Linked DNA regions of Homo sapiens. The protein of the gene in region 3 interacts with the protein of the main gene of each other region in a pairwise test. Each region holds a gene or a part of one and is shown on either strand. Other genes may lie near its edges.

Region 1 (8,556 bases), on a different chromosome or scaffold from region 3:
GCCCAGCCTCTTTTTTTTTTTTTTTTTTCTTCTGAGACAGAGACTTGGTCTGTCACCCAAGCTGGAGTGCAGTGGCACAATCTTGGCTCACTGCAACCTCTCGCTCCTGGGTTCAAGCTATTCTCGTGCCTCAGCCTCCTGAGTGGCCGGGACTACAGGGGTGTGCCACCATGCCTGGCTAATTTTTGTATATATATATATATATATATATATATATTTTAGTAGAGACAAGGTTTCACCATGTTGGCCAGGCTGGTCTTGAACTCCTGACCTCAGGTGATCCACCCGCCTTGGCCTCCCAAAGTGCTGGGATTACAGATGTGAGCCACCACCCCGGCCAACAGCCCGGCCTCTTTTTTTTTTTTTTTTTTTTTTTGAGATGGACTCTTGCTCTGTTGCCAGGCTAGAGTACAGTGGCGCAATCTCGGCTCACTACAACCTCCACCTCCTAGGTTCAAGTGATTCTCCTGTCTCAGCCTCCCGAGTAGCTGGGACTACAAGTGTGCGCCACCATGCCCAGCTAATTTTTGTATTTTTTTGTTGTTATTGTTGAGATGGAGGCTCGCTCTGTCGCCCAGGCTGGAGTGCAGTGGTGCAATCTCTGCTCACTGCAAGCTCTGCCTCCCAGGTTCAGGCCATTCTCCTGGCTCAGCCTCCCGAGTAGCTGGGACTACAGGCGCCTGCAACCACGCCCGGCTAATTTTTTGTATTTTTAGTAGAGACAGGGTTTCACCGTGTTAGCCAGGACAATCTCAATCTCCTGACCTCGTGATCTGCCCGCCTGGGCGTCCCAAAGTGCTGGGATTACAGGCATGAGCCACCACGCCCGGCCAATTTTTGTATTTTTAGTAGAGATGGGGTTTCACCATGTTGGCCAAGATGGTCTCGATCTCTTGCCCTCGTGATCCGCCTGCCTCGGCCTCCCAAAGTGCTGGGATTACAGGTGTGAGCCACCACACCCGGCCCAGCCAGCCTGGCCTCTTTACCGAGAGGGCCAGGCACACCTTTTCTGAGAATACCATAGCCTTTGCCTGCGTGCAGCTTTCTCTTTGTGCAATGCTTTTCCTCTGCCTCTTACATATACACACACAGATACACCCAAGTGTTTAAAAACACAGGCCCTGGAACCAGACTGCCCTTGGCTTGAATCTGAGCTCTACCACTTACTTCCTCTGAGGTTGTCTTCTTACCTGTAAAATGGGGCTAAAAGTAGTACTGACACAAAGTCCCTGGTACTTGTAAAGGTCAGCTGTAACCCTGTGTAGTTCTCCAGAAAGATTGTTTTTAGACCCTAAGTCTTTGATGTTGCTATTCCCTTTGCCAAGAAACTTCTCTCCTCTTTTTGTCTGACAAACTCCTACCCAGCACCTTTTGTGAAGCCTTCTCTGACATCTCTACATCCTCAGGGTTCCTATGGTATCCTGTGCCACCTCTATCATGGCAAATATCATGAGTTTGGGGTGGCATCTCACTGTTCCTCACTGGACTGAGAGTTTGTGGGTCTGATTCATTGTGGAGGCTCCAGTCAGCAACAAAACCTCTGAGCAGGGACAGGAATTTTAACTTTCAAACTTCCCTCTATATGCCCCATCTTCCCTTCTACGTATGTGGGCTCAACCCCACCCAGGCCCCTTCACACAGCAGGGACTCAGAGTACACTCAACAAATGACTGCCTCCCTCCCAGGCCTAGCAGCTAATTTTATGAATTCAAACCCACCTTCTTTACCTCTTTTTCACCTAATCTATTAGTGCCAGAGGGCAGGTGGAGTCTGGTTTACAGCCTTGCATATAGAAGTTGCTCATATTGCCGGGCGCAGTGGCTCACGCCTGTAATCCCAGCACTCTAGGGGCCAAGGCAGGCGATCACAAGGTCAAGAGATCGAGACCATGCTGGCCAACATGATGAAACCCCGTCTCTACTAAAAAAAATACAAAAATTAGCTGGGCGTGGTGGTGCACGCCTGTAATCCCAGCTACTTGGGAGGCTGAGGCAGGAGAATGGCTTGAAACCGGGAGGCGGAGGTTGCAGTGAGCTGAGATTGCGCCACTGCACTCCAGCCTGGAGACAGAGTGAGACTCTGTCTCAAGGAGGAAAAAAAAAAAAAAAAGTTGCTCATATTAAGCACCTAGACGGTAGCAGTTTAGCCTGCACATCACTGAAGCACGTCCAGTGCCAAGAACAATGTCTAGCACACAGTACATATTTAGTGACTGAGAAATGCTCCCAGGCCAGGTGTGGTGGCTCACATCTGCAATCCTAGCACTTTGGGAGGCTAAGGTGGTTTGATCACTTGAGCCCAGGAGGTGGAGGCTGCAGTGAGCCTCCCTTGGGAAGTGAGACCTTGAGAGGTTTTTTTTTTTTTTTCCTCCTTTTGAGACAGGGTCTCACTCTGTTGCCCAGGCTGCAGTGCAGTGGTGCGATCTTGGCTCACTGAGGCCTCCACCTCCTGGACTCAGGTGATCCTCCTGCCTCAGCCTCTTGAGTAGCTGGGACCACAGGTATCTGCCATCATGCCTGGCAAATTTTTATTTTTATTTATTTTATTTTACTTTTTTTGAGACAGAGTTTCTCTCTTTTTGCCCAGGCTGGAGTGCAGTGGCACGATCTCGGCTCACTGCAACCTCCGCCTCTTGGGTCCAAGCGATTCTCCCGCCTCGGTCACCTGAGTAGCTGGAACTACAGGCATTCACCACCACGCCTGGATAATTTTTGTATTTTTAGTAGAGATGGGGTTTCATCATGTTGCCCAGGCTGGTCTTCAACTCCTGACCTCAAGAAATCCACCCACCATGGTCTCCCAAAGTGCTGGGATTACAGGTGTGAGCCACCACACCTAGCCCCTGGCTAATTTTTAAATTATTTGTAGAGAGGTCTCCCTATGTTGCCCAGGCTGGTCTCGAACTACTGAGCTCAAGCAATCCTCCCACCCAGGCCTCCCAAAGCGCTGGAATTAGAGGTGTAAGCCACTGCCTGGCCGACCCTGAGTTTAACTGTCCCTATGCACAGTCCATTTCTACCAGACCAACTTCCCCATTAGACTGTGAATTCCCAAAACACACAGCCCAGTACAGGGCCCTGCTTTCAGTTAATGCCCAATACATACTCCTTGAGTAAATTATTCACTAAAGGAGCTGGAGCTAAACTTTCCTTATCTACTATTCCAATCCCCTTCCTAATTTTTGAGTTGCCAGGCCCCTGCACACAACAGCCATTCCACAAAGGACCTTCCTGGAAGTAGGCAACCAGGGGCCCGAGAGTTCCATTTTTCCTTGATTACAGCCCCATTTCCAACAGAGAACTCCCCTAGGGCGAGGCCCAGTGCCTGCTGCAAAGCTTGCACAAAGCAGGTACCCAATAAATGTCTACGAGGTGGCCCGGGAGACTTGAAATTTGCCCTTTCCTCGTCTACGATTCTTTCTCCCACTCTTGAATTGTGAACTACTTAGGGAAAGAATGGGGGTTTTTCACACAGTATATCAGTAAGTCTTTCCAGGAAGGAACCCACTAGGGCCCTGGAAATTCAACTTTCCCGCTTTACAACGCTTGTCTCCTACCAGACTGAGCTCCTCGGCAGGGTGAGAGCTCGCAGCAGTGGGTGGTGGGCGAGTTCCAGCGTAGGCTCCCGCACACTAAAGGAGCCCCAGGGCACACAGGAAGGAGTGCTCTCCTTCCAGCCCGCGCCGCTCCCGCCCTAGCGCAGGCCCCAAGGCTCTTCGATCCCTGCAGACCCCTTAGTTTTCCTTCCGCCCCCTCCGTCCGCCCAGCGTTCTCTTCCCAGTCCAGCCCCGCGCGGCGCCCTCACCCGTTTCTCTTATCTCCTGCAGCCCCTGCCGCTCTTGACACAGACCCTCGGCTCCAGGCGTGTGGGACCCCTCACTATCCACACCTCCCATTGGGCGGTGCCCTTACCCGTGGCGACCAATCAGAGCCTGCAGCGCAGGGCACGCGACCTTGCGCCTGCGTGTTGCCACACAGGCGGGGCTCTGGGAGTTATCCACGCACACATCTTCGCCCTGTGGGCGGGGCTCAGGGCGAGGAGATGCGCCTGCGCATTTCTCTGGGTCGCTCCCGGGCTAAGCGTCGGCAAGTTCTGTAGAGAAACTCGGGCAACCTTTGGTGAGCGTTGGGCCCATGGAGTGAACTGGGCGGCGGGAGACCTTGACAGAGATGTCATTTCAAAGCTGAAGAGACGGAGCATTTCTGAGAGTACAGCTTTAGAGCCCGACACACTTGGAGTTATTCTCCTCTCCGGGCCTCTGTTTTACTGGTGTGAAGTGAGCTTGAGTCACAGCCACCTCAAAGATTGTTTAGGGGATTGGATGATATCACACATGCACAGCGCTCATACACTGTAGGCGCCCACTACAACCCACTTAGCAAGACAGAATCCTTCACAGTTTGTTAAATTGCTTTCCTATTCTCCCTACTCTTCGTTTGATTTAATGATAGTCACTTACCAGGCCCCCTTGTGAGTTTAGCCCAGGACTATGCTTCCGTAGCTTACCATTGCCATCCATTTGTTTCACAAGTAGGGAAACTGAGGCCCAGAGAGGGGAAGGGATTTCTTGGAGGGTTTGTTTGTTTGTTTGAGACGGAGTCTCACTCTGTCGCCCAGACTGGAGTGCAGTGGCACGATCTTGGCTCACTGCAACCTCCGCCTCCCGGGTTCAACCGATTCTCCTGCCTTAGCCTCCCGAGTAGTTGGGATTACAGGTGTCCACCACCACGCCCGGCTAATGTTTGTATTTTTTAGTAGAGACGGGGTTTTGCCATATTGGTCAGGCTGCTCTCGAACTCCTGATCTCAGGTGATCCACCCGTCTCGGCCTCCCAAAGTGCTGGGATTACAGGCGTGAACCACCGCGTCCGGTCTTGTTTGTTTGTTTGAGACAGAGTTTTGCTATTGTTGCCCGGACTGGAGTGCAATGGCGCAATCTCGGCTCACGGCAACCTCCGCCTCCAGGGTTCAAGCGATTCTCCTGCGTCAGCCTCCCGAGTAGCTGGGATTACAGGCATGCGTCAGCACGCCCGGCTAATTTTGTATTTTTAGTAGAGATGGGGTTTCTCCATGTTGGTCAGACTGGTCTCGAACTCCCGACCTCAGGTGATCCGCCCGCCTCGGCCTCCCAAAGTGCTGGGAATGCAGGCGTGAGCCACCGCACCTGGCGTTTGTTTGTTTCTTGAGACAAAGTCTCGCCCTGTGGCCCAGGCTGGAGTGCAGTGGCACTATCTCTGCTTACTGCTCCCTGGTTCAAGAGATTCTCTTGTCTCAGCCTCCCAAGTAGTTGGGATTTCAGGCGCGTGCCACCACATCCGGCTAAGAACAGACAGGGTTTCATCATGTTGGCCAGGCTGGTCTCGAACTCCTGGCCTCGTGTGATCCGCCCACCTCGGCTTCTCAAAGTGCTGGGATTACAGACGTGAGCTACCGCGCGCAGCCGATTCTTTTGAATTCACTGCTACAGCTCAGGCAGAGCCAGTACTGGGCCAGTGCTAGGCAGGACCCAGATCTCCCGACTCCCAAGAGGAGTTAATTGCGGGGGTGGGAAGAGGTCCAGGGAGGGGACTTGTCTCAAGTACATGCAGGTCCTGACCTTGAGTCACCTAAGTGGGGGGCGTGGCGACCGTCACACCCAAGGCCCCGCGGTAAGGGGACACGCATACACCACAGCCTAGACTCCCTGACAGACCCTCTCTAGTTGTTGCAAGTTAGGGAGCGGGTATCTGGGCGACCCTGGAGGGCAGAGATTGGAAGGGGTTACGGAGGGGCCGTTTTGGCTCTGGGTGGAGACATCTGACTGTGATGGGGGTCGTGATGGACGCCATCGAGATGTACACAGTCGGAATGGAGGGTTCTGTTGCCGCTTGGAAGGAGGTATCCGTCCTGAACGTGAGATGAGGGAATTCTGGTTTTGATCAGGGGAAGGAACTTATAGACTGCGGGGGTGGTGGTGGGGGGGCGGGATTTCCATTTGGGATCACGAGAGAGCACAGTTGAGATGTAGATCCCTGGTTGTCACTAGAAGTGAGGGACAATCTAATGGAGGAGTGCCCAGGACCAGATCATATAAGGCCTGGGAGTTTACTGGGAGACGGGAAAGTAGTGATTGTGTTACTTTGCCACGGGCAACTAGGGGCAGTGGTGATGTGGGCGTCTAGCTCGTGATCAGGAGGGGGCTGTAGTTTATGAGATGAGTAGTTACAACTACTCGTGACGTGGCGCTACATGGCCCCGGTGGCTTGAGTCACGGGCAGGAAGTAGGGACCTGGAACCGGGTACCAGATACAGCCCAAGAGGCGGCGTGCTCTCGCTCTGCGCAAGCGCAGCACTCGCGAACCAAGATGCTTCGGTTGGGGGCAGGTCAAGCGGCCCAGGAAGGGCGGGGCTTGGAGGCCTCGTTCTGCGCATGCGCCGAAGGGGCGTGGCGGTCGCACCTGCGCGAGTTGGGGGAAGGAGGAGGGGCGAGGTGACGCAGGCGTAATAATAGAGAAGGTGCCAGAAAGATCCAAAACAAGTGGCTGCGGCCGTCGCCCAGGAGTCATCGGACGCCAGAATCTGGTGAGGATCCAGAGAGGCCTAATGGTGACTGGTGGCGGGTAGACAGGACCACCTGGGCTCTGGGGAGCGGGCGGGGCCGCCCTTGCAGGGCGAGGGGGTCGGGTTCGGACGGTACCACCTGTGTGGAGCAAAGGGGCTGCCTGGGTCGCTCCTCTGTGTAGGGGGCAGAGGGTCACTTTCGGGAGGTACCACTTGCGTAGAGCCGGGGGACTCATCAGACGGTACCGCTGGACGGAGAAAAGGGGCTCGTCTGGGCAGTCCTACCCAGAGTCAGGGGCAGTCAGCAGGGAGCCCCGGGGTGGGCCCCGAGGCTTGTTTGGGCCGCATCGTTTGGTCAGGTCCGGAGGCGAGCTCCGAACGTAGCACGGTGGTGGGGGCAGAAGCCGAGCGGGCTCCGGCGTCCCGACCTGTTCTTAGGGGACCTCGGGCGGGACCATTCCCTCCCGGGGGAGGGGGAGGCCGAGGCGGTTGGGGGTGCGGGAGCGGCCCTGCCCGGCGCGATTGGGCGGGGGAGACGCGCTGGCGGTGTGGGGTTCGGGCCTCCGCGTCGCTGACCACTGCCCCCTCCCCGCTGTGTGGGTTCTAGGCCGGGTTCTGAGCTTGTTCCGCCTCCCTCCCCCGGGAATGGCGCTATCCGGGTCGACCCCGGCCCCGTGCTGGGAGGAGGATGAGTGCCTGGACTACTACGGGATGCTGTCGCTTCACCGTATGTTCGAGGTGGTGGGCGGGCAACTGACCGAGTGCGAGCTGGAGCTCCTGGCCTTTCTGCTGGATGAGGCTCCTGGCGCCGCCGGAGGCTTAGCCCGGGCCCGCAGCGGCCTAGAGCTCCTGCTGGAGCTGGAGCGCCGCGGGCAGTGCGACGAGAGCAACCTGCGGCTGCTGGGGCAACTCCTGCGCGTGCTGGCCCGCCACGACCTGCTGCCGCACCTGGCGCGCAAGCGGCGCCGGCCAGGTACGGTTGAATGGGAGGGTGTCACACTTCCTGGGAGGAAAGGGCCTGGCTCCCGCTGGGCCTCCCTGGTGCCCTGATACGGACAGTGCCATATCAGGCAGCTTATGTCCCATTCTGCTACTCTCTCTTCCCACAATATCAATGAGCAACATAAGAGGAAGAAAGCATGGCTTTGGGAATTTGGCCACATCAGTGATGATGATTTTGGCCACTGTTTACGGAGGGCTTGTTTCATGCCAGGCACAGCTGTCAGCCCTTCATATGAACTAGTGCCTTATAGTCTCCCAGTAATCTCACAAGGAAGTCCTGTTACTGTCTTCACTGTAACCAAGAAAATAACAAGTTCAGAGAAGTTAAGCAGTTTGCACGTATAATAACAATCCTGTTTGCTGGGCCTAGGAGGGATACAGGATGATGGAGCTGACAAGGTGTTTGTTCCATGAAGTTTAAGTTTAGTGGGGGCAATCAGATAATAAGAGAACTTATTTTTAGACGCTGTTGTAGGAAGACTAAAAGTAATGGAATAGAGAGAGTCAGGAGAGCAGCAAGGTGAAGGGAGGCTTTGCCCTGAGGCTGCACTGCCAGCCATGCATAGACCCCAGGGGAGAAAATCCCAGGGAGCATCCAAGGCCTGAGGTGGGAATGAGTTTGGCATCATCAGAGGCCAGTGTGGCAGGAGCAGAGGGGACCCAAGCTAGGGAAGAGAGGGAGGTAAGAAGTTATGTCATGAAGGGGCTTGCAGAGAACGTAGCTGGGAAGTGTGGGAGCCAGGATTCAAACCTAGCCAACTTGTCCCCAGAGTTGATGCCCTTAATCCTTGTGAAGGAAGTGCTCCTGGAGGATAGCAGCCTTCACATGAGAAGCTGGGAGGGGTTCAGGCTGCCGGTAGCCGTGTGCATGAATAGACCAAGCCTTTGTCTGGGTTACTAAAGGGGCAGTGGCTAGTTTGGGGAGGGGGGATTATGGCCTTCCCTGACCCAGAGTAAGCCCACAGGATTTAGATAAGCAGGAGAAGGACAGCTCTAGGGAAGAGCTGACAGCATT
Region 2 (5,102 bases), on a different chromosome or scaffold from region 3:
AATTATTAGAGGAAAAACACCCATATATAGGTAATCAAATTTACATAATTTTTTTTTTTTTAGAGATGGAGTCTCGCTATATTTCCCAGTCTGGCCTCAAACTCCTGATCTTAAGGGATCCCCAGCTCAACCTCTCCCAGCAGCTGGGACTACCGGGCTGTCAAATTTACATTAACTATGAGAATTAAGCAGGTAATCTCTAGAGACTATTCTTATTCCTTTGAGCATAACAGACTGAAAAATCCTGAAGAATTAGAAACCTGTTTGGTTAAAACAAAATCACAAATTCAGTAGATTCAGTCATGATTTAAGTTCTTGTGATTGCCTTTGAAGTGCAAACCATGGCAAGTCTAGCTTAGTTTCTAGAGGAATTGGCTGAGCTGTAAGTGAGCTTCACACTGTTCTAGAATATAACATTGCTCTTTTGGAACTTGTTATTCATAGGTTTTGCTGAGTGGAGTTTTATTTTACAGATCTAGACTTTTGTGAAGAGGAGACAGTCCGTTTTAAATATTTGAATTTTATTTTCTTTTGACATACAACTGTGGAACACTCAGATAATCTATACCATGTTAGTATTCCTACAAGAGAAAACGGGTAAAACAGTATTTAGAAAGCAGTACCAGTAAACGTTATTACAAGCATTAGATGTGTTTAAAAAGTTGATACTAATTTATAACCTGTAATTGTTAAATGTGCATGACTTAAATGTTAAAATCCTGTATTTTAAGATAGTCTTCTGCAGTTACAAATCCATATACCCAGATTTCCTGTAGGCTTCACAAATCGGAGGGGTACATAGAATGTGCAAGAGTCAAAGGATAAATAATATTATAAATATATATTAACTATATTACCTAATTAAAACCATAATCTGTTAATACAGCTATGGATTAATTTCAAAAAAATGTAATCAAATATATTACTAATGGTGTAGTTGGCTGTTTTCCAATGTTGGTAAAGTTATTAAAGTTCTTCACTTTCATAGAGTCCAGATTGAGCTGCCAAACGCTGAAATTCTCCTTCTGGGTTAAAAGCTTGTTTTACATTCAAACCTTTCCCATTAAGTGCTAAATATTTGCTGAATGTTGGTCGAACCCGTAACTGCTTAGGAGCTGGAAGAGTTTGGTTTGGACGTGCTGAAATAGATCACATAAAAGTTGATTCAGAAAACCTGTTCTAACCAAATTGGTCACACTAGGTATTTATTATCAGACAGGAAAAGAAAAAAGAACCAAAACTGATTATATATGGGGAAAATATCTCAAATTTTATACTCTGCTGGGATTTTCATTTCTTATTAAATCTTCCTAGTTAAATCCCTTATAATACTTTGGTTAATAGTATGACATACCCGTAACGTCTAATCTTGTGTTACATGTAGTCACTCCAGCTTCATTAACTGCTGACACAGTATACCACCCAGCATCTTTCTTGTTTACATCTTTTATCAGTAAAGTAACTCTTCCAGTGTTATCTTGATATAAGCTGAAATAAAAATTTTTAAGAAATGAAAGTACAGGAATTATTTCTGTGAAGTGGATGTCTCTGACCAACAGTCAGACTAGGAAGAAAAAAACATTTGAAAATTCCAAAGCTGTATCTATTTATTGCCAAATAGCTATTGGTTTTCTTGAATTAAACATCCCCCCTTGGGTGCTGTCTCCCTCTGCTCTTCAATCTGTCCCCTGATGGTCCCTGTCATTCACTCGGGTGTGTCTGTGTTTGTATTTATGCGTATGTATAGGGGAATGGAGGGGTCCTGACCTGTTCCGTTATCTGTCTCCTACCTCCTCCTTTGTTTAATAAAGGCTGAAGCTTTTTGTAAAGAAAGAAAAGAAAAGAAAACATCCCCCTTTAATCTTGTTTATGTCATTTATTTCCTTGGGCCATCTTTCATCATCGTTGATAAAAAGATAAATCCTAGTCTACTTTATGCCTTACATTTCTGATTAGTGGAATCTGGCTTACTGAAGTTTTCTTACATTTTTATCTAATATATATTTTATTATATTATTCTTTAGTGTTTTAAAAACTAGACAAATTGAGATAAATGCATGCCATTTATAATGCATGTTAAAAAGTATAACTGGATTCACCCAAATAAACTATAGTAAGTCTAGAAATACATATCCTACCTTATTCGGTCAGTGTTGAATTGTACCATTTCATTATTTCTTTTCCAGAAAAGCTTTGGTGGAGGTATAGCCGAGATCTGGCATTCTAGTTTCACTGAATCTCCCTCTAAAACTTTTTTGCTCTGTGGTTTGTAGATAAACATTGGTGCTCTTTTATGTTCTTTTGCTATATATTAATACAAAAATTCAAGTATTTGAAATATTATAAAAAAGGTATTAAATCAAACCAAGGTATTATGAAATTTGTATGTTGATATTAAAATGTTAAAAAGCAACAGCAACAGAAAGAAACTCAGTAAAAAAGACATGCAGTACTATTTTGTTATACCATTCAGAATTCTAAACTCTAATGTAATGATGCATTGAATTGATAATCAGATAATTATATTTCATTCAAACTAAAGTCATATTCTTTTTTTTTTTTTTTTTTTTTTTTTTTTTTGAGACAGAGTCTCGCTCTTTTGCCCAGGCTGGAGCGCAGTGGCGTGATCTTGGTTCACTGCAACCTCCGCCTCCCAGGTTCAAGGAAGTCTCCTGCCACAGCCTCCTGAGTAGCTGGGATTACAGGTGTGCACCACACCCAACTAATTTTTGTATTTTTTTTAGTGGACACAGAGTTTTGCCATGTTAGCCAGGCTGATCTCTAACTCCTGGCCTCAAGTGATCTGCCCACCTCAGCCTCCTAAAGTGTTGGGATTACAGTCATGAGCCACCGTGCCTGGCCCAAATTTAAGTTATATTCTTTATCATCTCATCTACAGGGAGGCAGCATGAGTGATGGAAAGAGTATCAGACAGCTTGGGTTCAAATTACCTATTGGCTCCATGAGCCATGCCAAATTGGTAAAATTTTGTTTAGTTTCTCTGAGTCTCAGTTTTATCTATTGTTATAAAAAAAAAATCCCGGTAGTAGTGACTGTTGTGTCTACCACACAAAATAATTGTAAGGAACAAATGAGATAATAAACAAAGAGATACTTTGTAAACTCTGAAGGAATGTGGGAATATCAGTAATTATTATGACCTTATTTTCAGCTACCTGAGGGGAGACAGGAAACGATAGTTCAGTACCATAACCCTGGTTTTTCTGAAGGAGAAATGAGATTAAACGGATGGCAGCCAAGATCTCTTTCAGCTCTACTATTGTAGTATTTCTGAAGCCATTGGTACAAATAGGATTTGTCTAAACTTTAATCACTTAAATTGTATGTGTTTTTGAAAATTTCCAGCCCACTAGTTTTTCCCCTGAGATTGAGGCCCTTTGGTATATTATTGAATAATCTTAAAGATTTTGTATTGATCTGGGTAGAATATAAACTCAAGAAAATAGTTTATCCTTTAACCTGATCAAACTTCTGTATAATAAATAGTGAATTATAGCAAAATATCTCTTATGCAATATACAATGGCTTAAAGTATTAAAAATATGGTATGGGTTGAGTATCCATTATCTGAAATGCTTGGGACCAGAAGTGTTTTGGATTTCTGATTTTTTTTTTATTTTAGAATATTAGCGTTATACTTGTTGAGCATTCTTAACCTGAAAATCCAGAATGCTCTAATGAACACTTCCTTTGTGTGTCATGTCGATTTTGGAGCATCTTAAAGATTTCAGATTTTTGGATTAGGGATACTCAACTTGTATATTTAAAGCACTTAAAGTGTAAAATTTAAAAACCAGACACCAGTTTTATAAGAACTGCTCTACTTAAGACAGATTTGAGACATAAATGTAGCCATACCTGTTTTCTAAAGCAAGTAGGCCTGTTTTGGTTATAATTAGACATTAGTTTCCTAGTAAAAAGGACATAGTCTAAGGCTAAAAGTTGATATTTACTCTTGATTTTTTAAGAAATTTTTTTAAACAAGGTCTGACTGTGTCACCCAGGCCGGAGTACAGTGGTGCAATCATAGCTCACTGAAACCTCAAACTCCAGGCTCAAGTTATCCTCCTGCCTTAGCCTCTCTAGTAGCTGGGACTATAGGTGTGCACCACTATGCCCAGCTAATTTTTTTATTTTTTGTAGAGACAAAGAAGATCTTGCTATTTGTTACCCTGGCTGGTCTCAAACTCCTTGGCTCAAGTGATCCTTCCACCTTGGCGCCTCTTAAAGTGTTGGGATTACAGGCCTGAGTCACTATACCCAGCCTACTCTTCACTTTTAAACTATGTATTTAACGTTTGACAGATTATGATAATTCTGTAATACTGTGAGTCAGATTGGTTATTTTTATTATCCTCATTTTGGAGAAACAAAGACCAGAGAAATGATTAGACTAAGATTTTCATTTTGAGACTCTATAGTTACGTCTAGAAATGCTTATGCTTCATTATTTGGTTTGTCTAAAATTGTATGATTTATTTTCTTTCCAGAAAAGCTTTGGTGATAGATCTGTCATTCTAGTTTCACTGACTTTCCTTCACATATCTATATATGTATGTATGTGTGTGTATATATATATATTTTTTCCTGTGGTTTGTAGATAAAAATGGACATTCCAATAGGTTGTATAGACATTAACCTTAAATATGAAGTCTGCTGGGCTTTTCTTTTAAAATACTTTCTTTTTTTCAATACTTCTGGATTTTAAGGAATTCTCAAGGGTCTCTTTGGAGGCTTACCAAGGACATCCAGCTGCACAGTGAAGGTGGCTTCTCCTGCTCTATTCTTGGCAACACATGCATAAGCCCCTGCATCTGAAGCTCTGACTACTTCAAAGATGAGTGAATGAAGACCCTTCTCAGACACTATCATTTTGTGCAAATCATCTGATTGAACTGTTCTTCCATTTAGATACCATGACACATCAGGAGCTGGCAGTCCACTCACCTAGAAAGAAAAACACAAGGAGATGGCAGAATTTTAAAGTATTGCATCACTGAAACCTATTTGTCCATATATGAATTTAAACAGTTCCCGTATCTGAGTGGGTTTGCGATTGAAATGCAAAGCAAGAGCTCAAA
Region 3 (8,610 bases):
ATTGAATTTCTCTAAGTTAGTATTACAATGTTACAGTGTATCATGTATTTCTCTTCTTCTCTTTTTTCTTCCTCCAAGACTGTGAGCTTTTTAAAAAAGAAATCTAGTCTTGTTCATCTTTGTATCTCATATATATAGCATGTTGCAAGAACCCAAAAGTGGGCAGAAAGATGAGTTCAAGAGCCTCTGCTCTATATCTGAATATAAATGCTTATTATGTCAAGTTTGATTCTAGAAGTGTTCTAATAATGCATGCCACAACCTAGGTGTTAAGGGTATTGGGAGACAAGATAAAATCATCAGGCCAATACTAATTTTTATGTGGAAATGCTAGAAAAAGTGATCATAATATTATAGAAGCCATTCATTCTTTGCATAAAAACTTGAACATTTTTAATTATGAAAAATATTCAGATATCTAAGATAGACAGATATTCACCTTTTAGAGATCTCAGTGCATGCAGTAAAATCCAATAAGGTACCTAAAAGGCAATATGGTTTAACATAAATGATAAAACTGTACTTGCCACTAGATGAAGGGATTTTCAGTTTTTCCAGAGCCGAATTTCTGAGTCTAAGTGGCAAGAAACAGACTGGGTCTGAACGGTCTCATTGTACTTTCACAGTCAAATTACTGAATAATAAAATCTCACATGACCAGCAATAAAAGTAAATGTTCCCAGCTAATCCATTTAAATTGAGTAGATATTCAGGGATCTCACACCTAATACCTGCTAAATACATATCACACATGTTTAGCTGCCCCTATCCACAAAAGTATATGACCATTATTGAAACTGGTCTCAAGACCAATCTCTGCCATTTCCCTCCCTTTTACCAGCTTTTTCTTATTTCCATTAGGAAAATGAATCTATAAGAGAAATTTAGGAAGAGGGAATTTAATATATAAAAGTAAATTTTTCAATAGCCACAAAATTGCATAACACCATTAACCTCAAATATTTATTTTTGAAGGTTGATATTTTAATCTCTTCCATTTTCCTCAACTATCTTCTCATTAGGCAGCAATCTGGTTAATATGAAAATAACACATTTCATATGTATATTACAGTTTATAAATTACTTTCATATTAACTTATTTGATCTTCACAAAAAATGCTTTAAGGTAATCTAAACAGAAAGTATTATTTTGATTTTATGGATGAGAAAATAACTATCCAAAAAGATTACATAACACACAGCTCATAAGTGCTTAAGCCAGGACTGGAATAAAGACTGAAATTTTAGATTTCTAGCTCTACATCAGTTTGTTTGTACTTCAACAAGCTACATCTTGAAAATAAGTACACAAGAGAGGACTGGAAAATCTGTCTACAAATAATAGTTAAAAAAAGGCCAACTTAATATTCTTCACTACAGTCAGACAATAAACCTTGAATTTTAACAATTTATAATAGATGTAAAACAATAATTACAAAGAAATATTGTAGGTAAGTATTAACAGTGCCTTTCATCTATAGAACATACAGTAATTTATATTTCTCTCAATATTCTGAGCAAAGCAGGTGACAGTTTTATTAAAAGTTCAAATCTATTGTTAGACATATGTATGTAATGTATAGAAATACCAGTTTAGAGTTTAGAAGAAACAGGCACCATGGTATACTGCTAGCAGAGTATTCACTGGCAAAACTATTTTGGGAGTAGTCTGGCAATGTATATTGAAAGCCTAAAAATGCACATGACCTCTCGCACCTAGTTATTTCCTTTTTAATTTATTGTAAGGAAATAATTATGGATGTCTATAAAAATGTGTTCGCAAAAATATGTTAGTATTGTGTTAACAGAACAAATTAATAAATGGATTGGTTAAATCAGAGTAAATGAAAGAATAAAACGTAGAGCTGTCCCTCAGTATTTGCAGGGGATTGGTTCCAGGACTCCTACAGATACCAGAATCCTTAGACGCTCAAGTCCCTTACATACAATGATATAGCATTTGCATATAACCTATGCATATCCTCCAGTATATTTTAATTCATCTCTAAATTACTTACAACACGTAATACAATGCAAATGCTATGTAAATACTTGTTATAGTGCTTTGTTTTTATTTGTATTTTTTATCATTGTATTGTTATTTTTTTTTTTCAAATATTTTCAATCCTCAATTGGTTGAATCTGGATGCAGAACCCATGGCTACCCAGGGCTGGCTGTAGTTCTTAAAACTGATCTGGAAAAATGCAAAAGATATATTAAGTGGGATAAAACAGATTTCTAAACAATGAATATAATAGAATCATATTTTAAAGGATATGTATCTCTGTGTGTGTGTGTATATATGTATGAGTATATATGTGACCAGGATATTACACAAAAATATTAATAGCGATTGTATACAGGCAGTGTTATTATAGATAAATGTAATTTTATTACTTTTACTTTTATATTTTCTCATTTCTAAAAATGACTAAGTAATTTTCCTATATTTCTACAACAGAATAAGTTAAATATCTTTATAAACATATATAAAACATATATAGCATATATATGTATCATGTAAATATTGAAACTATGGAAAACAAAGGATAAAAGTTGAATTTACATCTATCAGAGAGCTCTAGAGCCATTATGTGTGCATATGAAGATACATTTTAAAGAGTATAGAAATATGAAGAAGGCACAGCACATAAGATGAGTCAGGAGAGAGAACAACAGCAACTTATTAAGGCAAAGTGTCCAGTATCAGAAAATAAATGTGAATTAAGCAGTACATTTTAATAGCTACAGTTTCTCACATCTAATTAACAGAAAGTTTTAAATATTGACAACTTTGGAAGTGAAGAAGTTTAGGCAGTTTTTGAAAAAAATGTGAATACAAAGTTCATTGGGAATGCTGGAGATACTTCTGGAAAGTAAGATACTTCAATCATATGCTATAGCAGCATCAAGAAAGGTACTAGGTGAAGATCACAGCAGCAAACATAACTCCCATGTTGAAACTATAATGCATACCCATCTGGAATATGTAGCTCTGCTCGCCACACCTTAGAGTAGATATTATAGAAACAAAAAATAAGTCCAGAAATGGGAAAATAAATTATGAAATGGCAACTATAAGGGATGAAATTAGGAGTCTCTGAAGTTCAAAGACAAAAGAAGCTCAGAAAAATATTTCCCAAAGCTTATAAGATCATAAATTTTACAGATAAGATAAAAATAAGCACCAAGAGACCAAATTAATATGGCAAAAGTTTAAGGCAAATCCAAGGAAAATAAAATATTTTGATGGAATAGGTAAAATATATAAGATGTATAATACTACTGCATTTAGAATAAAATCCAAAATCCCTCCCAAGTTCCATAAGTCTCAGTATTCCTGGCTCCTTCCTGCCTCTCAGATCTCTTCTCCTCCAGCTGTCCTCTCATTCCCTAGGCCCCAGCCACACTATCTCCCTCCTGTTCCTCTAATGCACCTCTGTGCTCACTATTGACTCTGCCTGGAATGCTCTTCTCCTAGGTTTCACCTGGCAAGCTGCTTTCTATCATTGACATCTCAGCTTAAAAGTCACATCCTCATGAGGACCGTCCCTGATTGTCCTACTCAAGGCTACTTGCTCTTGGAACCAACCAATATTGCATTACTTAGTTTAATTTTCCTCATAGTACTTATCATCATATGAGGTCATCATTCGTTTATTTATTCATGTAAACTGTTTTTCTCTCAAACTAAGGAAAAAAACAATTAAAGAGTTTTATCATCAAAGAGACTTTCCCTCACCACCCCAGGCTAGTTCAGATCACTCTATTTTATTACTAACTTCCACCTCACCTTGTCATTTTTCTTTTGTAATCCAACTTATACTTGTAATTTATTTTCCAATATCTGTTTTTCTCCATAAATTCCATGAGTTAGGGGCCACTGTGTGCTATCTTATTAATCAATGTATACCCACCAGTTACCAGTATATGGAAAGTACTCAATAAATACTTTCTCGAATAGAAGAATAACTGGTGAATGAGAAAGAATTGGGAATAAAAAGGCAGAAAAAGGAAAGCAAAAATAAATAAAAAGCTACATGAAAAAAATTATGGCATTATATTAACCACTTACTATTCCGTTCTCCAAATACCACTGTTTCCTACTAAACAAGAATATAACAGGCTCTAAACTGCATTTGTAATACAATATATAGGAAAATAAACTTTTAAGAGTTTCATATCTGCAATTTATGCCCTGTGCTTTCTGATTCACTTTTTGTAAATAAAATCCTGTGGATCTTTGGAACTGCAATTCTTCCAAATCAGCAATTCAAGTAACAAAAGGAATTCTGGATGACTAAAAAGCAGATGCTGTCTGGGTGCCAAGCTTCATGCCTATAATCCCAGCAGTTTGGAAGGCCGAGGCAGGCGGATGACCTGAGATCAGGAGTTTGAGACTAGCCTGGCCAAAATGGCGAAACCCCGTCTCTACTAAAAATACAAAAGTTAGCCAGGCGTGGTGGCATGCGCCAGTAGTCCCAGCTACTCGGGAGGCTGGGGCACAAGAATTGCTTGAACCCAGGAGGCAGAGGTTGCAGTGAGTGGAAATCGCGCCACTGCACTCCACAGCCGGGTCGACAGAACAAAACTCTGTCTAAAAAAAAAAAAAGGCAGGTGCTAAAAACAAAACCAGAAAAGCTATTAGGAGAAACGTCATAAAGTTGGAAACTGAAAAGCATTTCATTTCATGGAATAAAATTTTGTTCTTCAGTAATTATGAAACTGTCTTTGAAAACTCTGTTAAAAACAACTTTGACTCATGCCTGTAATCCCAGCACTTGGGGAAGCCGAGGCAAGTGGATCACTTGAGGTCAGGAGCTCGAGACCAGCCTGGCCAACATGGTGAAACCCTGTCTCCACTAAAAACACAAAAATTAGCCAGGCATGGTGGCACATGCCTGTAATCCAAGTTACTCACAAGGTGGAGGCAGGAGAATCGCTTGAACCCAGGAGGCAGAGGTTGCAGTGACCCGAGATCACACCACTGCACTCCAGCCAGGGTGATAGAGTGAGACTGTGTCTCAAAAATAAATAAATACATAAACAAACAAACAACTTTGAGACATTTTACTTCAAAGGTTTAGATTAGTTCTTATGGAACATAGCTAATAATCTTTAAAGTCCTTTATTACACTAACAGTTCATCTGGAGTAATGATATTCTAATAAATGCTATATTTTAGAAGATACATAATATTAATATCTTTGTCAAATATATCTTAGAATTACCTTCTCTGTCCTCTTTATAATATGTAAAAGAAATTGATGAGTCCAGCATACGCTTCATCTTAAATGAGGTGTATGAGAAACATGCTAAACTATGGTTCCCTATCTCTGCTTCACAATATAAAGGTGATTCCAGAATTTGGAAGCCTCAACTATAACAAACTAGATGAAGACAGAAGCTGATTAGATAAACTGCAGTGGTCAGGAAGCCTCACCAACAGAGCAAACAACCTCCATCTTCAGCTGCTTATTGAGAGGCCATAATCCTTTGCTGCAATACATACAACAGTGGCTAGACTGAACACAGAGAAGGGACATCTGTTTCTTAGGCCTGTTCTTTCTCATAAATGATTGATGGCAAATATGGAGGAGAGTGATCTGGATGCACAAAGAAACTTGAAAATTTTACTCTAGCCAATTTTAGGCTTTCGTTAATTCAAAGCTGTATCTGCCATACAACAAGAACATTTTCACTAGATCAAAAGAGGAATAAGAATATCTGCAGGCCTTGAGATTTCAACTATTTTGCCTTTTAAACTATATATTAGCTGAACGTGGTGGCTAACATAAACATAATCCCAACACTTTGAGAGGCCAAGGTGGGAGGATCACTTGAGCCCAGGGGTCCAAGACCAGGCTGGGCAGCATAGTGAGACCCTGTCTCTGAAAAAAAAAAAAAATTAGCTGGGCATCATGGCACACACCTATTATCCTAGCTGCTCGGAAGGCTGAGGCTGGAGGATCACTTGAACTTGGGAGGTTGAGGCTGCAGTGAGCCATGATCTCACCACTACATTCCTGCTGGGTGACAGGGCAATATCCTGTCTCAAAAAAAATAAATAAATAAAAATAAAATAATAAGATAAAACAAATAAAGTATATATTATTCAAAGTACCCTGTGTCTTGAACTTTGTGGATCAGGACTCACAGTAAGAAATATATTTTACATCAGAATCCAGTACACATCCAATACATATACAATTAAACAAAAGTTCATGAACGTTACCCTTACAACATGTAGTGAATATGTTAAGTTGCTATTTTATGTCATCTTTTTAATGCTGGCTACATACCACAAATTTGAGTAATGAGTCATCAGGTACAGTTTGAGAAACACTGCTGTACGTATACGTGTGGTCTGGCCTCTGCCTACCTCCCTAACCACATTTCATGGTATTTTGCACCATATTTTCCCTACTGCAGCCACCCCTGCACCATCCCACCACCCAGTTTCTATTATTTTATTACATTGAACCATAAGTTCCTAAAATATACCAATCTCTTTTCTGCCTCAGGGTATTTGATCTTGTTGTTAGCGTGGCCTGGACTCCTCCAGATCACTGCACTTTGTATTATATTATGCAGGTCTCAATATAAAAGTTCTTTCCACAGAGAGGCCTTCATTGACCACCTAATTTGAAAGAGCCCCAGCCTGCAATCCCGGCAGGAGGAGTGGGAACAGGAGTTCATTCATTGCCCTTAGCATTCCTGGGAAGTTTGATAACATAATGTAAGACAGGCAAAAACCAAAAACAGTATTGAGCAAATGTCACTTTCTACCTCCCTATGCCATTGCACAGGTCATAGAATTCTAACTATTGAAATTCTATTCCATTTTCTTCATGACAACTTTTCTGACTCTGACTGAGAAGCAGGGACTCAATTGTACAATTTGCCCCCTATTACTTTGTATTCTCTCAGACCACTTAGCGCATTCTTTCTTATTTTGTATTCATTCCGCAAACATTTGAGTGCCTAATATGATCTAGGCAATACTGTGAACAACATAAGCATGAATTCCTCCAACAGTTCACATTTTAGTAAGAGTGACAGATCTATAAACAAATAATTTCAACCGAATGAGGCAAGTACAATAGGAGAGATGTATACTACATAAAATGGTGACAAAAAGAATGAACAATCAACCTCTTTTTCTTTTTTTCTTGATTTCACAGTGTGGAGGGGAAAGCTCTGAATATCTGCATAGATTTTAAATTTGTATTTATTTATACTTTTTTAGAGACAAGGTCTCGCTATGTTGCTCAGGCTGGCCTTGAACTCTTGGCCTCAAGCAATCCTCTGACCTCAGCCTCTTCAATAGCTGGGACTACACACATATGCCACCGCACCTGACTCGACTCAACCCTCTTTGAGTAGGGAAGGAAGGCATCACAGAAAAGACACCTACACTGGGTCTGGAAGTGAATCCACCTTTGCAAAAATTATAACAGTGAGAGAAATCTAACCTAACTGACTCCATATTGCTTCTAACCTCACAAAGCTAACTGCCCTTGCTCATACCTGGGCATAGGCAAGCTAACTATGGGAGAAATTTATAGTTTAACTTTGAAGCAAGGATGGTAATAGTCCCTTCCAAAACTGACCCCCTCTAGGGACTAAAACAGCCTTGTAAGACTAATAGAAGGCCGCAAGGTTAGGACTATGGGAGGGACCTAAAATCTGCTAAAATATAGGCATAGGTAAGCAATAACCAGCTACTGTTCCTTGCTTTTCTATAATTTCTTACTATTCAGAAGTCATGTAGCCAGAGGTCACAAGATTTGTAACTTCACCAATTGCTCCTTTAGATAACATCACTATTGTAAAACCTAAGATTGGTCTTGAGATATTTTCCAGGCTTCTGCATTCTGGCAAACCTCCTGATGCCACCCAGATACATGCCTCATACCAAGAAACTGACTCTACTAGTCCTATGACTCTCACCTAGACAACTGACTCAGCACAGGAAGACAGTTTGGAAACACCTATAAATTCATCCCCAACCAATCAGCAGCGCCCATTCCCTACCAACCTGCCCACAAAATTATCCTTGAAAACCACAACTTCCAAGCTGTCAGGGAGGCGGATTTTAGAAATATTTCCCATCCTTCCACTCAACTGCCTTGCCTCCATTAAACTCTTTCTCTGCTGCAACTCCTGCATTCTCAATGTTTGGCCTTTCTGGGAAGTGGGCAAGAAGAACACGTTGGCCTGTAATAGGAGAATAAATAAGTTTGGCAAGCAACAAGAGGGTGCAAGTATTCTGTGTAGAAGGAATTGCAAGTGCAAAGTAGAAAGAGGAGGCATACTACCAGTTTGAAGTTGCTTGGTATGTTCAATGAAAAGCAAGTAGCTAAAAGGCAAGAGAATTTTTTTTTTTTAAGTATGGAAAGGGAAAGGCAAAAGCTAGACAGAAAAGTGCTTGTTCATGGAGGAACTTGTGTGCCATTCTAGACATTTTACTGTAGGAAATAGGGAATCTAGAGTTTTAAGGAGGTGAGTAAATCAACAGGTTGGGTTTTTAAAAATTCCTTCTTGTGGCAGAGAAAATAATGGATTGGAGAATTTCCAGACCAGACTGTAAAAGTCACTATTAAAAT
Region 4 (8,610 bases), on a different chromosome or scaffold from region 3:
GACTGCACCACTGTACTCCAGGCTGGGTGACAGAGAAAGGCTCTATCTCAAAAAAAAAAAAAAAAAAGAAAAAGTCAACTGACCATTTATGTGTGGCTCTATTTCTGGACTTCTAATTCTGTTTCTTTGGTCTATGTGCCCTGTCCTTTCACCAATACCACATTATCTGGAAGCTGGAGCTTTCTATTACATCTTGAAATCAGGTGGAATGAATGCTCCAATTTTGTTCCTTTTCAAAATTGTTTTGGCTATTCTAGTTCCTTTGCCTTTCCAATTAAATTTCAGACATAGAATGTCAATGTAAACAAAAAATCCTGTTAGAATTTTGATTGTGATATATTGGAAGAGAGAAAGAATTAACATCTGTACTGTGTTAAGTCTTCCCATACAACAGCACAGTGTATCTCCCCATTCATTCGGGTCTTCTTTGGTTTCTTTAGTCATCGCATCCTAGTTTTCAGCATACAGATCCTGACTGTATTTTGTTAGATTTATACCTAAGTATGGCCAGGCGCGGTGGCTCATGCCTGTAATCCCAGCACTTTGGGAGGCCAAGGCGGGTGGATCACGAGGTCAGGAGATCGAGACCATCCTGGCTAACATGGTGAAACCTCGTCTCTACTAAAAATACAAAAAAAATTAGCCAGACGTGGTGGTGGGCGCCTGTAGTCCCAGCTACTCGGGAGGCTGAGGCAGGAGAATGGCATGAACCTGGGGGGCGGAGCTTGCAGTGAGCTGCACTCCAGCCTGGACGCCAGAGCAAGACTCCATCTCAAAAAAATAAATAAATAAAATTAAAATTAAAAAGATTTATACCTAAGTTATTTCTTGTGTTTTGGTGCTTTTGTAAATAGCACTTTAAAAAAATGTTGTATTTCCAGCTGTTCAATGTTAGTATATAAAAATATAATTTTGAAGCTGAGCATGGTGGCTCACACCTGTAATCCCAGTACTTTGGGAGGCTGAAGCAGGCAGATATCACTTGAGCCCAGAAGTTCCAGACCAGCCTAGCCAACATGGTGAAACTCTGTCTCTACTAAAAATACAAAAATCAGCCAGGTGTGGTGGTGGATGCCTGTAGTCCCAGCTACTCGAGAGGCTGAGGCAGAATAGCTTGAACCTGGGAGGCAGAGGTTGCAGTGAGCCGAGACTGGGCCACTGCACTCCAGCGTGGGTGACAGAGGAAGACTCTGTCTCAAAAAAAAATATATATATATATAAATATATAAAATATATAAATATATAAAAATATATATAAATATATAAAAATATATATATGAATATATATGGGGTGTGTGTGTATATATATAATTCTGTATATTGAACTTCTTTTCTGTGATCTTGATAAATTCACTTATCCATTTTAGAAGTCTTTCTGTAGGTTCCTTGGGATTTTCTACATAGAAAATTATGTAGGATTTTAGGTGGGCATGGTGGCTCATGCCTGTAATCCCAGTACTTTGGGAGGCAGAGGCGGGTGGATCACCTGAGGTTGGGAGTTCGAGACCAGGCTGGCCAACATGGCGAAACTCTGTCTCTAGTAAAAATACAAAAATTGGCCGGGCATGGTGGCACATGCCTGTAGTCCCAGCTACTCAGGAGGCTGAGGCAGGAGAATCGCTTGAACCCAGGGGACAGAGGTTGCAGTGAGCCGAGACTGCACCACTGTACTTCAGCCTGGGTGACAGAGCGAGACTCCATCTCAAAAAAAAGAAAATTATATAGGATTTTCTATGTTACAATAAAGACAGTTTTACTTATTATTTTCTAATCTTTATGCCTTTTATTTCCTTTTTTTACTTTACCGCACTGGCTAGGATTTCCAGCATCACGCTGAATATAGTGGTGAGAGTGGATGTCTTTGCCTCGTTCCTGATCTTAAGAGGAAAGCATTCAATCCTTCACCATTAAATAGTTTATTGGCTATGGGTTTCTTATAAGTACTTTATCAGGGCCGGGTGTGGTGGCTCATGCCTGTAATCCCAGCTCTTAGGGAGGCCAAGGTGGGTGGATCACCTGAGGTTGGGAATTCGAGACCAGCCTTGCCAACATGGTAAAACCCTGTCTCTACTGAAAATACAAAAATTAGCTAGGCGTGGTGGCTGGCACCTGTAATCCCAGCTACTCGGGAGGCTGAGGCAGGAGAATCACTTGAACCTGAGAGGCGGAGGTTGCATTGAGCTGAAATTGCACCACTGCACTCCAGCATGGGTGACAAGAGCAAAACTCCGTCTCAGAAAAAAAAAAGAAGTGCTTTATCAGGGTAAAAAGTTCCCTTTTATTCCCAGTTTGCTGAGTTCTTATCATGAATAAACGTCTAATTTTGTCAAATACTTTTTCTGCATCTACTTAGATCATACAGTTTTTCTTCTTTGGAATGACACAGTGAATTAACTTATTTTTGAATGCTGAATCTACTATGTTTTTCCAGAATAAATCCTCCTTAGTTGTGATGTATTATCCTTTTTATACATTGCTAGGTTTTGTTTTTTTTTTTGAGACGGAGTCTCGCTCTGTCGCCCAGGCTGGAGTGCAGTGGTGCAATCTCGGCTCACTGCAAGCTCCGCCTCCCGGGTTCCAGCGATTCGCCTGCCTCAGCCTCCCAGGAAGCTGGGACTACAGGCACCTGCCACCACGCCCGGCTAATTTTTTTGTATTTTTAGTAGAGACGGGGTTTCACCGTGTGTTAGCCAGGATGGTTTCGATCTCCTGATCTCACGATCCACCCACCTTGGCCTCCCAAAGTGCTGGAATTACAGGCGTGAGCCACCGCGCCCGGCCATACATTGCTAGGTTTGATATGCTAATGTTTCATTAAAGATTTTTGTCTATATTCATAGGAAATATTGTCAGTAGTTATTTCTCATAATATCTTTTTCTGATTTTAGCATCAGGGTAATGCTGATACTAAAATTCACAAAATGAGTTACAAAGTGTTCCCTCTTCTTCCATTTTCTTGAGGAAACTATGTGGAGTTGGTATTATTTCTTCCTTAAATATTTAGTAGAACTGACCAGTGAAGCCATCTGGGTCTGGAATTTTCTTTTAGAAAGGTATTTAGAAATGAATTCAATTTCTTTCCATCTTTTTTTTTTTTTTTTTTGAGATGGACTGTCGCTCTGTCACCCAGGCTGGAGTGCAGTGGCCCAATCTTGGCTCACTGCAACCTCTGCCTCCTGGGTTAAAGTGATTCTCCTGCCTCAGCCTCCCAAGTAGCTAGGATTACACGCATGCGTCACCATGCCTGGCTAATTTTTGTATTTTTCATAGAGACAGGGTTTCACCATGTTGGCCAGCCTGGTCTTGAACTCCTAACCTCAGGTGATCCACCCACCTCCACTTCCCAAAGTGCTGCAGTTACAGGCGTGAGCCACGGTGCACAGCCCCAATTTCTTTAACAGATATAGGACTACTCAGGTTTACCATTTCTTTTTGAACTGTGTCTCTAAACAGTAGAATTATTGACACTGTAGTTTATTTAGGATAATTATTTGTAGGAGGCTTAGCACATCCCTGGCCTCTACCCACTATGTGCCAGTAGCACCCTTCCAGTTGTAACAATCAAAAATTTCTTCAGGGCTGGGCGCAGTGGCTCAAGCCTGTAATCCCAGCACTACGGGAGGGTGAGGTGGGCAGGTCATGAGGTCAGGAGATCGAGACCATCCTGGCTAACATGGTGAAACCCCGTCTCTACTAAAAATACAAAAAAAAATTAGCTGGGCATGGTGGTGGGCGCCTGTAGGCCCAGCTACTCAGGAGGCTGAGGCAGGAGATTCGCTTGAACCCGGGAGGCAGAGGCTGCGGTGAGCCAAGATCATGCCACTGCACTCCAGTGTGGGCAACAGAGCAAGACTCTGTCTCAAAACAAAACAAAACAAAACAAAATGAACTATTTCTCGGCCAGGCACTGTGGCTTACACCTGTAATCCTAGCACTTTGGAAGGCCGAGGAGGGTGGATCCCCTGAGGTCAGGAATTGAAGACCAGCCTGTTCAACATGGTGAAACCCTGTCTCTACTAAAAAATTACAAAAATTTGGCTGGGCGCCATGGCTCACGCCTGTAATCCCAGCACTTTGGGAGGCCGAGGCGGGCGGATCACGAGGTCAGGAGATCGAGACCATCCTGGCTAACACGGTGAAACCCCATCTCTACTAAAAATACAAAAGATCAGCCAGGCGAGGGGGTGGGCGCCTGTAGTCCCAGCTACGCGGGAGGCTGAGGCAGGAGAATGGCGTGAACCCCGGGGGGCGGAGCCTGCAGTGAGCTGAGATGGCGCCACTGCACTCCAGCCTGGGTGACAGAGCGAGACTCTGTCTCAAAAAAAAAAAAAAAAAAAAAAATTAGCCAGGTATGATGGAGGGTGCCTGTAATCCCAGCTACTCGGGAGGCTGAGGCAGGAGAAATTGCTTGAACCCAGGGAGGTGAACCCAGGGAGAAATTGCTTGAACCCAGTGCAGTGAGCCGAGAACTCGCCACTGCACTCTAGCCTGGGTGACAGAGCAAGACTCCATCTCAAAAAAAAAAAAAAAAAAAAAAAAGGACCACTTCTCTTAAGTGAGCTTTGGCAGTTTGTGTCTTGTAAGGAATTGACCTATTTCATCTAAGTTGTCAAATTTATGGGCATAACATTGTCTGTAATATTTCCTTATTATCCTTTTAATGTATATAGATTCTATAGTAATATTCCCAATTTGGTTCCTAATATTCTTAATTTGTGTATATTTTTTCTTGGTCAGTCTGACTAGAAGTTTATCAATTTTATTGATCTTTTTTTTTTTTTTGAGACAGAGTCTCGCTCTGTCTCCCAGGCTGGAGTGCAGTGGCGCGATCTCAGCTCACTGCAAGCTCCACCTCTTGGGTTCATGCCATTCTCCTGCCTCAGCCTCCCAAGTAGCTGGGATTACAGGCGCCTGCCACCACATCCAGCTAATTTTTTGTATTTTTAGTAAAGACGGGGTTTCACCGTGTTAGCCAGGATGGTCTCGATCTCCTGACCTCGTCATCCGCCCGCCTCGGCCTCCCAAAGTGCTGGGATTACAGGCGTGAGCCACCACGCCCAGCAATTTTATTGATCTTTTCAAAGAACCAGCTGTTGGTCTGTTTTCTCTATTCATCTTGTTTTCAATGCTATTGATTTCTTATCTTTACTATTTCCTTCCTTCTGCTTGCTTTGGGTTTAATTTGCTCTTCTTTTCTAATTTCACAGGGTAGAAGCTTAGATCACTGATTTGAAAACTTTCATAATTTTCTATTATTTCAGTGCTATATATGTATTTTTTGTTTGTTTGTTTGTTTGTTTGTTTTGAGATGGAGTCCTGGAGTGCAGTGGCACGATCTTGGCTCACTACAACCTCCGCCTCCCGGGTTCAAGCGATTCTCCTGCTTCAGCCTCCTGAGTAGCTGGGATTACAGGCACATGACACCACACCCAGCTAATATTTGTATTTTTAGTAGAGACAGGGTTTCACCATGTTGGCCAGGATAGTCTCTTATCTCCTAACCTCGTGATCCACCCGCCTCGGCCTCCCAAAGTGCTGGGATTACAGGTGTGAGCCACCGCACCAGGCCAGTGCTATACATTTTTATCTAAGCACTATATCCCATAAATTTTTTCATCCCCTAAATTTTGACATTACGTTTTCACTCTAATTAAATTCAAAATATCTTCTAATTTCTTTGCTGTTTCCTCTCAGACACATGAATTATTTACAAATATGTTGTTTAATTTCCAAATATTTAGGAATTTTTCAGATATGAATCTGTTGTTATAATCAGAGAAAATACTCTGTGTAATTTCAATTTTTTTTTTTTTTGAGATGGAGTTTCACTCTTGTTGCTGAAGCTGGAATGCAATAGTGTGATCTTGGCTCACTGTAACCTCCGCCCGTTAGGTTCAAGCGATTCTCCTGCCTCAGCCTCCCAAGTAGCTGGGATTACAAGCATGCGCTACCACGTCCAGCCAATTTTGTATTTTCAGTAGAGGTGGGGTTTCTCCATGTTGGTCAGGCTGGTCTCAAACCCCAGACCTTAGGTGATCCTCCCTCCTCGGCCTCCCAAAGTGCTGGGATTACAGGCGTGAGCTACTGCGCCCGGCCTCAAATATTTTAAATTTGCTAACATTTGTTCTGCAGCCCAGAATATGTTTTATTTTGGTGAATGTTCCACGTGCTCTTAAAAAAGACCATGTATTAGGCCGGGCATAGTGGCTCATACCTATAATCCCAGCACTTTGGGAGGCTGAGGCGGGCGAATTGCAAGGTCAGGAGATCAAGACCATCCTGGCTAACATGGTGAAACCCTGTCTCTACTGAAAGTACAAAAAAATTAGCCGGGCGTGGTTGTGGGCACCTGTAGTCCCAGCTATTCGGGAGGCTGAGGCAGGAGAATGGCGTGAACCCAGGAGGCTGAGCTTGCAGTGAGCCGAGATCGCACCACTGCACTCCAGCCTGGGTGACAGAGTGAGACTCTGTCTCAAAAAAAAAAAAAAAAAATGACGTATTCTTTATTGTTAGGTACAGTGTTGTGAGACAGAGTATTCTACAACTTTCAACTACATCAAACTGACTGATCGTATTGATTGGCTCTTCTATGTCCTTACTGATTTACTATCTACTTGCTCTATTGATTATTTTGAAAGGAGTATTGAAGTCCTCAAGTCTAATTGTGGATTTGAGAATCAAGCACTTTAAAGGAACAAGTTTGCTTACCATTCTGAATCTGAGCCACTTTTTTAGAGATCTCTCCAATGATCTATTAAAAAAAAGTAATACATTTTAATAATTTTTGAATATGTTAGAAAGCACAGAAAAACTATAATTCAAAATTAGTATTTAAAAATACTTAGACTTTTGGTCTAACAGTCATTTAGATAATAAGAAGAAATGAGAGACTTGTTACTTCTACTGAAATCAGATTTACCCAGAACATACCTGTCGTCTCCACTTCTCAGCTTTAGGCAGTTCAGTACATTCTGAGGCCAGAAAGGGTCTTCGTTCCTAAGGAGAAAAAAATAACACATTTCCATTATACTATTTACAAGTTTCAAACAACATTCAGAACTGATTCAGGCCTTAAGCCTAAATCATCTAATGGCCTAAAAACATTTGAAGTTTTCATTCCAGATGATCCTCATCAAGCCTTAAACCTCATTCTACAATCTCTCCTTAGGAAAAACATTGATTGCATTGTATTTAATATTGGAAAGAACTTAACTGTCCTGCAATAGAGAGACAGCCAAACTAGGTTATAGCTATTTCATGGCATATTTATAGTACCTTAAGAAACAATGTCTATCAGTGTTTAAAACAAACATACATAAATATGGGTGTATTCATATACATGTGCGTATATAAAATTAAAAAAAAAATCCAAAGAATGGTATATATTATCTCTAATTTGGGTGAGTCTCTAAGAAATGAAATAATTTACCGGTTTCAGCTTACAGCTGTTCTCCACATCATACTCCAGTCCCTATTCAATATTAGAGCTGGAGTAATAAAGGACCCAGTCATCAGGCTGGGCACGGCGGTTCATCTCTGTAATTCCCACTTTGGGAGGTCAAGGCAGGCAGATTGCCTGAGGCCTGGAGTTTGAGACCAGTCTGGCCAACATGGTGAAACCCCATCTCTACTAAAAATACAAAAAAATTAGCTGGGTGTGGTGATATGTGCCTGTAATTCCAGCTACTCAGGAGGCTGAGGCAGGGGAATTGCTTGAACCAGGGAGTTGGAGGTTACAGTGAGCCAAGATCACGCCACTGCACTCCAGCCTGAGCGACAGAGCGTCCATCTCAAAAAAAAAAAAAAAAAAAAAAGGGCCGGGCCCAGTCATCATAATACAGAAGAAACTGAAAAACAAGCAGCCAGATCCATCACCCTGCCTCAGCTATGGGGAGGTATTGGAATTCAAGTGTACAGACTCTCAAGAGCGTCAGCAGGTACAGATAAGAAATAGGAAATTCTGAAGTTTGAAGTCTGTTGACCTGGAGTGCAGCAGCGCGCTCTCGGTGCACTGCAACCTCCGTCTCCAGGGCTCAAGTGATTCTTCTGCCTCAGCCTCAAGTAGCTGGGATTACAGGTGCCTGCCACCATGCCCAGCTAATTTTTGTATTTTTAGTAGAGATGGGGTTTCACCATGTTAGCCAGGCTGGCCTCAAACTCCTGTCCTCAAGTGATCCACCCCCCTCAGCCTCTCAAAGTGCTGGGATTACAGGCGTGAGTCACTGCACCCTACTTTTTTTTTTTTTTTTGACAGGTTCTCACTGTGTCACCCAGGCTGGAGTGCAGTGGCATGATCATGGCTCCCTGCAGTGTAAGACTCCTGCATTCAAGTGATTCTCCTGCCTCAGCCTCCCCAGTAGCTGGGACTACAGGCAGGCGCCACCATGCCTGGCTAGGCTAATCTTTGTATTTTTTGTAAAGAAGGGATTTTGCCATGTTGCCCAGACTGGTCTCAAACTCCTAGACTCAAGTGATCCACCCACCTCAGCCTCCCCAAGTATTGGGATTACAGGCATGAGCCACTGCACCCAGCCTGCATTTATTCTTGATACTTTACAATTCATGAGGAAGATTTACACCAACCTTCACTTTTCCCTCTTCCAGCTGAGC

The links.
Region 1: the proteins of NME7 (region 3) and ZNF526 interact in binary tests that used the Homo sapiens proteins (3 or more experiments, as listed by UniProt).
Region 2: the proteins of NME7 (region 3) and MYOT interact in binary tests that used the Homo sapiens proteins (3 or more experiments, as listed by UniProt).
Region 4: the proteins of NME7 (region 3) and ISY1 interact in binary tests that used the Homo sapiens proteins (3 or more experiments, as listed by UniProt).

What each region holds. Positions count from the first base shown.
Region 1 is NC_000019.10:42,215,636-42,224,191, reverse strand, and holds the start of ZNF526 (zinc finger protein 526), read right to left. Parts: upstream 3,881-8,556; 5' UTR 3,805-3,880; exon of another isoform or gene 3,557-3,804; intron 1-3,556. Other genes in the region: DEDD2 (DNA-binding death effector domain-containing protein 2), read left to right, coding at 7,185-7,512. UniProt on the Homo sapiens protein: May be involved in transcriptional regulation.
Region 2 is NC_000005.10:137,883,250-137,888,351, reverse strand, and holds the end of MYOT (myotilin), read right to left. Parts: exon of another isoform or gene 4,969-5,102; coding exon 4,761-4,968; exon of another isoform or gene 4,731-4,760; intron 2,305-4,730; coding exon 2,139-2,304; intron 1,489-2,138; coding exon 1,355-1,488; intron 1,140-1,354; coding exon 967-1,139; 3' UTR 501-966; downstream 1-500. UniProt on the Homo sapiens protein: Component of a complex of multiple actin cross-linking proteins. Involved in the control of myofibril assembly and stability at the Z lines in muscle cells.
Region 3 is NC_000001.11:169,357,181-169,365,790, forward strand, and holds part of NME7 (nucleoside diphosphate kinase homolog 7), read right to left. Parts: intron 1-8,610. UniProt on the Homo sapiens protein: Possesses an intrinsic kinase activity. Displays 3'-5' exonuclease activity with a preference for single-stranded DNA. Does not seem to have nucleoside diphosphate kinase activity.
Region 4 is NC_000003.12:129,149,925-129,158,534, forward strand, and holds part of ISY1 (pre-mRNA-splicing factor ISY1 homolog), read right to left. Parts: coding exon 8,584-8,610; intron 6,997-8,583; coding exon 6,931-6,996; intron 6,752-6,930; coding exon 6,709-6,751; intron 1-6,708. Other genes in the region: ISY1-RAB43 protein, read right to left, coding at 6,709-6,751, 6,931-6,996, 8,584-8,610. UniProt on the Homo sapiens protein: Component of the spliceosome C complex required for the selective processing of microRNAs during embryonic stem cell differentiation. Required for the biogenesis of all miRNAs from the pri-miR-17-92 primary transcript except miR-92a.